Linked DNA regions of Homo sapiens. The protein of the gene in region 1 purifies or fractionates together with the protein of each later gene. This does not show direct contact. Each region holds a gene or a part of one and is shown on either strand. Other genes may lie near its edges.

Region 1 (3,500 bases):
TCCAATTTTCTGCAAATCTGATGGGCACCTCACTGTTACTTTAATTTGCATTACTCTAATCATTAAGGTAATAGCTTACTGACTGCTTGAATTTGTTCTTCTGTAACGTGCCTATTAATATTTTCTAATCACTTCATAGAAGCTCTTTATATATTATGGATATTGACACCTTACCAAATTTGTTATAAGAATTTTCCTTATTCTATTATTTATCTTTTGTATTTGGTTATATTTTTGGAATATAATTTTTTTAAATTTAAATATCCATTCTTTGATAAATTCTGAACTCTGTCTCGTTTGAAAAGAATTCATAAAAAGATTTACTGCAACTCGACATCATAGTCAACTATATTTTGTCCTAAAATTTTAAACTTTTTTATTTTTAAATTTCTAATTCCTCCAAATTGGTGTATATAGTATGTGTTACATCCACATGACTAACCAATTCTACCAGCACCATTTAATAAATAATCTTTTATCCACTGAATTGAAATATGTATATATCCTGGGCTCTAAGATTAACTCTTCCAGTTGTCTATTCTTTCGCTAGTACCATACTCTTTTTAGTTTACAATGACTAACACAAGTTTTTGAAACTGGTAAGGCAAGACCCTTACTATATTTTTCATATTCCTAGTCATTAGTTCTTCCATAACAACTTTAAATGTATGTAACCCAGTTTCACAGAATTTTTCATATTTTGGTATCTGCAAATTCTTTTAATAGGAATCAATAAAATCTCATACTGAGAGGCCATATACTGTAGAGAGCAGTGGTTAAATATATGAAGTTTTACTTTTTAGCTAAGTCAACTTGGACAAATGTCTTAACCTTTTATATAAAATAACAGTAGTACTTACGCACTAGTCTTACAAAGATGAAATAATACCTATTAGGCATCTAATATAGTGTCACACACTTGTAGGAATTGCTCAATAAATACTAGTTACACAATCAAATCCTACTGACAAAGGAAAAAGACCGACCTGTAACTGGGAAGGAGGAAAACTCCTTGAGGGTGGAGACTTGGTTTTCCAGTAAGGAATTCAGAGTACAAAGTGATGTGTGAGTTTCTAAAACTACTTACAGGTTTTAAATCCCAAGTGCATTTAAAAAAAAAAGTCCAGCAAAGTTTATTTTAAAAATGTAAAGACGAACATGTAAAACCATAGGGGGAAAATTCTGGTCCTTTCCCAAATTTCAATCATAATTTTTATGTATTTTGTCTATTTTATTTTGCCTTACTTTGTAAATATGGTCACAAAACTAAACAATTCAAAAGTTACCCTTTATGCTTATCACTTCAAACACTTTTAATGGTAGAAAAAATTAGAAAACAAAGGGAAAACCAACCAAAATTTTCCAAAAGAGGGTAATAAATTAAGATGAAGACCAGGAAAACACCATTCTTCCTAAGAGTAAGAATGTACCGTCCTGGCATATGGTAGGCTATATACTAGGTATGTTCTCTCCTGCACGTCCACAGCAACAGTTGGGAGAACAGGTAGAGGGAGGGAAATGAGCTGCACTCAGCAGAAATGGTTAATGCACCATGAAAGAAAAAGACTCTCTGAGTTCCTAGTGGATTCTTACCTATAGGACAAGACAGAGTAATGGAATTGACTCTTTCAATGCACTAATGATAACCCCCAAAAGCCAACTCTGTCTTTAGAGTTGGCAATCTAGTAACAATGCCTAGTACAAAACAGAGTACTTTCCTTGCTGCTCTCCTAAGTTTTGCCTAGCATCATTTAGCAAGACTCTTAGGAAAAATCCCTTGCTCAATCTCCTCACTTACTACAATAAGTAGAGCAATTCAAAGAATCTCCAATGAAGCAAATCAGTGTCTACTTCCCATCTTCATTAAGAAATCATGCTGTGTCCATTGATGCTTCAGGAATCAGTAGCATGGTAACAACACTAGTGACAATTGGAAAATCTCTCTTCCTTTCTGTGTTACTGGACATAGCAACAGCTTTTTCACAACAAAATAAAGAAAAGGAAAAGGCCTAGACATTGTGATTAGTCAAGTAAGATCAACTAAAAAAAACTGGTGGGGGGAGGTCTAATAACACAATTAACAGGAAAACTAAATCTTAAATTTTTGCTCAATTGTCTTTCCATCATTTATTTTTCTTTTTTATTATTATTATTATTATACTTTAAGTTCTAGGGTACATGTGCACAATGTGCAGGTTAGTTACATATGTATACATGTGCCATGCTGGTGTGCTGCACCCATTAACTCATCATTTAGCATTAGGTGTATCTCCTAATGCTATCCCTCCCCCCTTCCCCCACCCACAACAGTCCCCAGAGTGTGATGTTCCCCTTCCTGTGTCCATGTGTTCTCATTGTTCAATTCCCATCTATGAGTGAGAACACCATCATTTATTAAAAGCTTCAGTTATTAATTACTTGTTTATCTAGCATTGACCATAGCCAACACTGCCCATCAAGTTAACTGGTAACAAAATCTGTTTCTCAGAAGTATCATTTCCAAGCAGATACCAACCCACTGGGCCAATTATTACCAGGTAGTTGTGCTGACTGCATTCTAAAAAACAATGGCCTTTCCATTTCTGATTTTAGAAAAAGTTCCTGTAATGACAGCAGAAAGCTACAAGAATATATGGGCTAATTCCCATGCTAAGAATCCTCTATAGCAGCAATTTTTTTAGAGTAAGCCACCTATGTCCCTGTTGAATACCAGATCCTTTCCCAAGAAAAATGCACATGTGCATATCATACAAAATGTAGCATACAGTTTCAGGAGGTAAACAAAATTCCTGGAATCTTATCCAGGGAATCAGATCAACAATCTGTTATAAGGTTTCCAAAATCACTAGTAGGGCCTTGTTCTGAACAAACCTGAGAATAGAGTTGTACTGGAAAGGTTTATTAGCAGGTAAGAGAAAGAGTAGCTAGTAGGAAAATGCAAGGTAAGGACAATAAAAGCAAAAGGGAGAAGAGATTCACAACCACACTGAAGCCTATACTCTAACAGCACAGTGTTTATTCATTCATTTGACAAATATTTTACTATTACATGCTAGGCAAGGTACTAAGAGATGTGATAGTGATCAAACTCTGATGTGGCTAACATGGTTCTTGCTCTCACACAGCTTTTAAGTATCAGGAAAAGATAATCAATCATCCTGATGAATAATCAACTGAGATACATTACTGGAATAAGGAAAATATATTTTATGAGAACCTACAACAAAAGAACCTAGCTTAGATTGAAGGCTCACAAAGCTTCCCTAAAGTAAGGTTAAGGTGAAATCTAACAAGTAAATAGGAGTTCTCTATGCAGAAATGGGAGTGAGAGATAAAATTAATACAAGCCTTACAGACTGAGAGAGCCACATATTCAAACCACATATGGTGCAGGCAGTATGGAGATTAGATAGTTTTACTATGAAATTAGGAAGATGTGGGTTCTTTTATTAATAGCTTTCTTCTTAGCCTGTTACTTATTTTCTTTAAAAATAGCAGTA
Region 2 (3,500 bases), on another chromosome or scaffold:
CATCTCAGAAGACAAAGAGGAGGCAAGACTTGGAGCAAAAGTCCTGAAGAGCAGGGCAAGGAGCTGCAGGGTAGGCGGGGCTGGGTGGGGTGGTGGGGGTAGGCAGGAGGTGAGTAGGTGGGGCGGGGGGTGGGCAGGGGAGCGCTGGCAGCTGCAGTCCGAGCAGGGAAGCGCTGCAGGCCAGCAGCTGGGCCAGTTGTCACATCATCCACCTGACAAGCAGCAACAGAGTATTTGGAGAAATGTAGGAGGGGGAAGGCTTTTTCCATCCTGACATTATCTTCCCTAACTCACATTCAGAAGCTGACTTACAAAAGGTGTTCAATGTCCTTTTCAAAACCTCGAACCAGAAGGCCGTGGTTCCTTCTGCACGTGGCTGTGCATCAGAATCACTTGGAGGCCTTTTGACACGGATTCCAGGGCCCCACCTCAGACCTCCTGAGTCGAAATCTCTGTGGGTCAGGCTCCAAAATCTGTTTTTGTTTTTCTAAACCATCTCTCACAGTAATTCTTATGTGCCCTCCCCTAGGAAACATTTGGGAACCATTGCCAGATGAAGGTTCAGTTAATGGAGGAATGGAAGAGGGCTAGCCTCAACCCAGAAAAGGGAGGCTGACTTTGCTGAACCTTCCATCCGTTCCAAACCCCATCTGTTCACATTTCTCTCAGTGACTTAGATGAAGACATAGAATTCATGCTTACAAAACTGAGGATTGTGTAAATATAATTTAATAAATGGGGTTCTTTTTTGCTTAATATGATACGATGAGCATTTTCTTATGTCATTATATAGTCTTCAAAAATAACTTCAATGACTACATCATAATCTATAGTACAGGTTGGACATTTAGGTTGTTTCTGTTTTTATGCTGTTATACATAATGTTGCAATGAACTGAACATTTTTGGCCATAAATCTTTGTATTTCTAGTTTTTTTCTTAGAATAGCCTAAGCATAAATTAGTGCCTCAAAAAATATAGATAATAGGCTGGGCGCAGCAGCTCACACCTGTAATCCCAGCACTTTGGGAGGCCAAGGTGGACAAATCACTTGACTCCAGGAGTTCAAGATCAGCCTGGGCAACATGGTGAGCCCCATCTCTAAAAAAAAATACAAAAATTAGCCGGACATGGTGGTGCATGCCTGTAGTCCCAGTTACCTGGGAGGCTGAGGTGGGAGGATCACTTGAGCCCAGGTGGTCGAGGCTGCAGTAAGCTGAGATTGCACCACTGAACTCCAGTCTGGGCAACTGAGTGAGGCCTTGTCTCAAAATATATATATATATTTTTTTTTTTTTTCAGGCTTATATATATTCCTAAATCTATGTATCTATCTTTCTTTTTTAGGACAGTTATTCCAAATTAGACTCCCACCAGAAATATGAGGATCAGTAATTCACCAAACTGCCAGTAAAACTAATTAAAATTAATTTGATAGGAAAAAAAAGTGTTTTAGATAGGGTCTTGCTCTGTTGCCCAGGCTGGAGTACAGTGATGCCATCATAGCTCACTGCAGCCTCAAACTCCTGGGCTCAAGCAATCCTCCCACCTCAGCCTCTGGAGTAGCTGGGACTACAGGTACATTGCACCACCACACCCAGCCAATTTATTCATTTTTTGTAGAGTTGGGATCTCGCTGTGCTGTCTAGGCTGGTCTCAAACTCCTGAGCTCAAGCGATCCTCACGCCTTGGCCTCCCAAAGTCCAAAGTGCTGGGATTATAGGCGTGAGCCATGGGGCACTCAGCCAGAACAGACTTATTTTAATTTGTTTATTTCTTACTAGTGACGTTGAACTTATAAAATATAGTTGTCTTCCATATTACTTTGTGAATTGTCTGAATTGTCTGTGAACTTTGTCCAATTTTCATTTGAAGTGTTGGTCTTGTCCTTTTTTTTTTTTTTTTTTTTTTTTTGAGATGGAGTCTCACTCTGTCACCCAGGCTGGAGTGCAGTGGCGCGATCTCAGCTCACTGCAAGCTCTGCCTCCCAGGTTCACGCCATTCTCCTGCCTCAGCCTCTGGAGTAGCTGGGACTACAGGCGCCCACCACCACTCCCGGCTAATTTTTTGCATTTTTAGAAGAGACGGGGTTTCACTGTATTAGCCAGGATGGTCTCGATCTCCTGACTTCATGATCCACCTGCCTCGGCCTCCCAAAATGCTGGGATTATAGGCATGAGCCACCGAGCCTGGCCCTGGTCTTGTTCTTATAAATAAATGTAAATGTTTTTCTCAGTAACAGATATCAATCCTTTGTCACAGTTGTAAAAGTGTTTTTCCAGTTTGAAATTTGCCTTGTAATTTTTGTAATAGTTTTTCCATGCAGATATATTTAATATTTGTGATCAAATCTAACAATTTTTCCTTTTTTATAATATCTTTTATTTTTTGGTTAGAAAATCCTTGTTTATCTTAAGACTCAGGAAATGTTCACTCATATTCTTTTTTTTTTTTTTTTTGAAACAGACTCTCACTCTGTCCACCCACACTGGAGTGCAGTAGCACGTTCTCGGCTCACTGCAACCTCCACCTTCCAGTTCAAGCGGTTCTTGTGCCTCAACCTCCCAAGTAGCTGGGATTACAGGCATGGGCCACCATGCCTGGCTAATTTTTGTATTTTTTAGTAGAGACAAGGTTTTGCCATGTTAACCAGGCTGGTCTCGAACACCTGACCTCAAGTGATCTGCCTGTCTCGGCCTCCCAAAGGGCTGGGATTACAGGCGTGAGCCACCGTGCCCTGCCTCTTTTTTTTTTTTTTTTTTAGTATTTATTGATCATTCTTGGGTGTTTCTCCGAGGGGGGGATTTGGCAGGGTCATAGGACAATAGTGGAGGGAAGGTCAGCAGATAAACATGTGAACAAGGGTCTCTGGTTTTCCTAGGCAGAGGACCCTGCGGCCTTCCGCAGTGTTTGTGTCCCTGGGTACTTGAGATTAGGGAGTGGTGATGACTCTTAAGGAGTATGCTGCCTTCAGGCATCTGTTTAACAAAGCACATCTTGCACTGCCCTTAATCCATTTAACCCTGAGTGGACACAGCACATGTTTCAGAGAGCACGGGGTTGGGGGTAAAGTCATAGATTAACAGCATCCCAAGGCAGAAGAATTTTTCTTAGTACAGAACAAAATGCAGTCTCCTATGTCTACTTCTTTCTACACAGACACAGTAACAATCTGATCTCTCTTTCTTTTCCCCACATTTCCCCCTTTTCTATTCGACAAAACCGCCATCCTCATCATGGCCCGTTCTCAATGAGCTGTTGGGTACACCTCCCAGACAGGGTGGCGGCCGGGCAGAGGGGCTCCTCACTTCCCAGACAGGGTGGCTGGGCAGAGGCGCCCCCCACCTCCCAGACGGGGCGGCGGCCGGGTGGGGGCTGCCCCCCGCCTCCCTCCCGGACGGGGCGGCTGGCCGGGCGCTCTTTTTAAAATAGGATTACTTTTTAAATATTTAACTTTTTAACCCACCTGGAAGTAAAATCTGTCTCAATTATATTGTTGTG

The links. The genes of interacting proteins can lie anywhere in the genome.
Region 2: the proteins of AASDHPPT (region 1) and EHD4 fractionate together in Homo sapiens (co-fractionation; one large-scale study listed by BioGRID). This does not show direct contact.

Annotation. Positions count from the first base shown.
Region 1 is NC_000011.10:106,080,662-106,084,161, reverse strand, and holds part of AASDHPPT (L-aminoadipate-semialdehyde dehydrogenase-phosphopantetheinyl transferase), read right to left. Parts: intron 1-3,500. UniProt on the Homo sapiens protein: Catalyzes the post-translational modification of target proteins by phosphopantetheine.
Region 2 is NC_000015.10:41,962,558-41,966,057, reverse strand, and holds part of EHD4 (EH domain-containing protein 4), read left to right. Parts: exon of another isoform or gene 1-70; intron 71-3,500. UniProt on the Homo sapiens protein: ATP- and membrane-binding protein that probably controls membrane reorganization/tubulation upon ATP hydrolysis. Plays a role in early endosomal transport.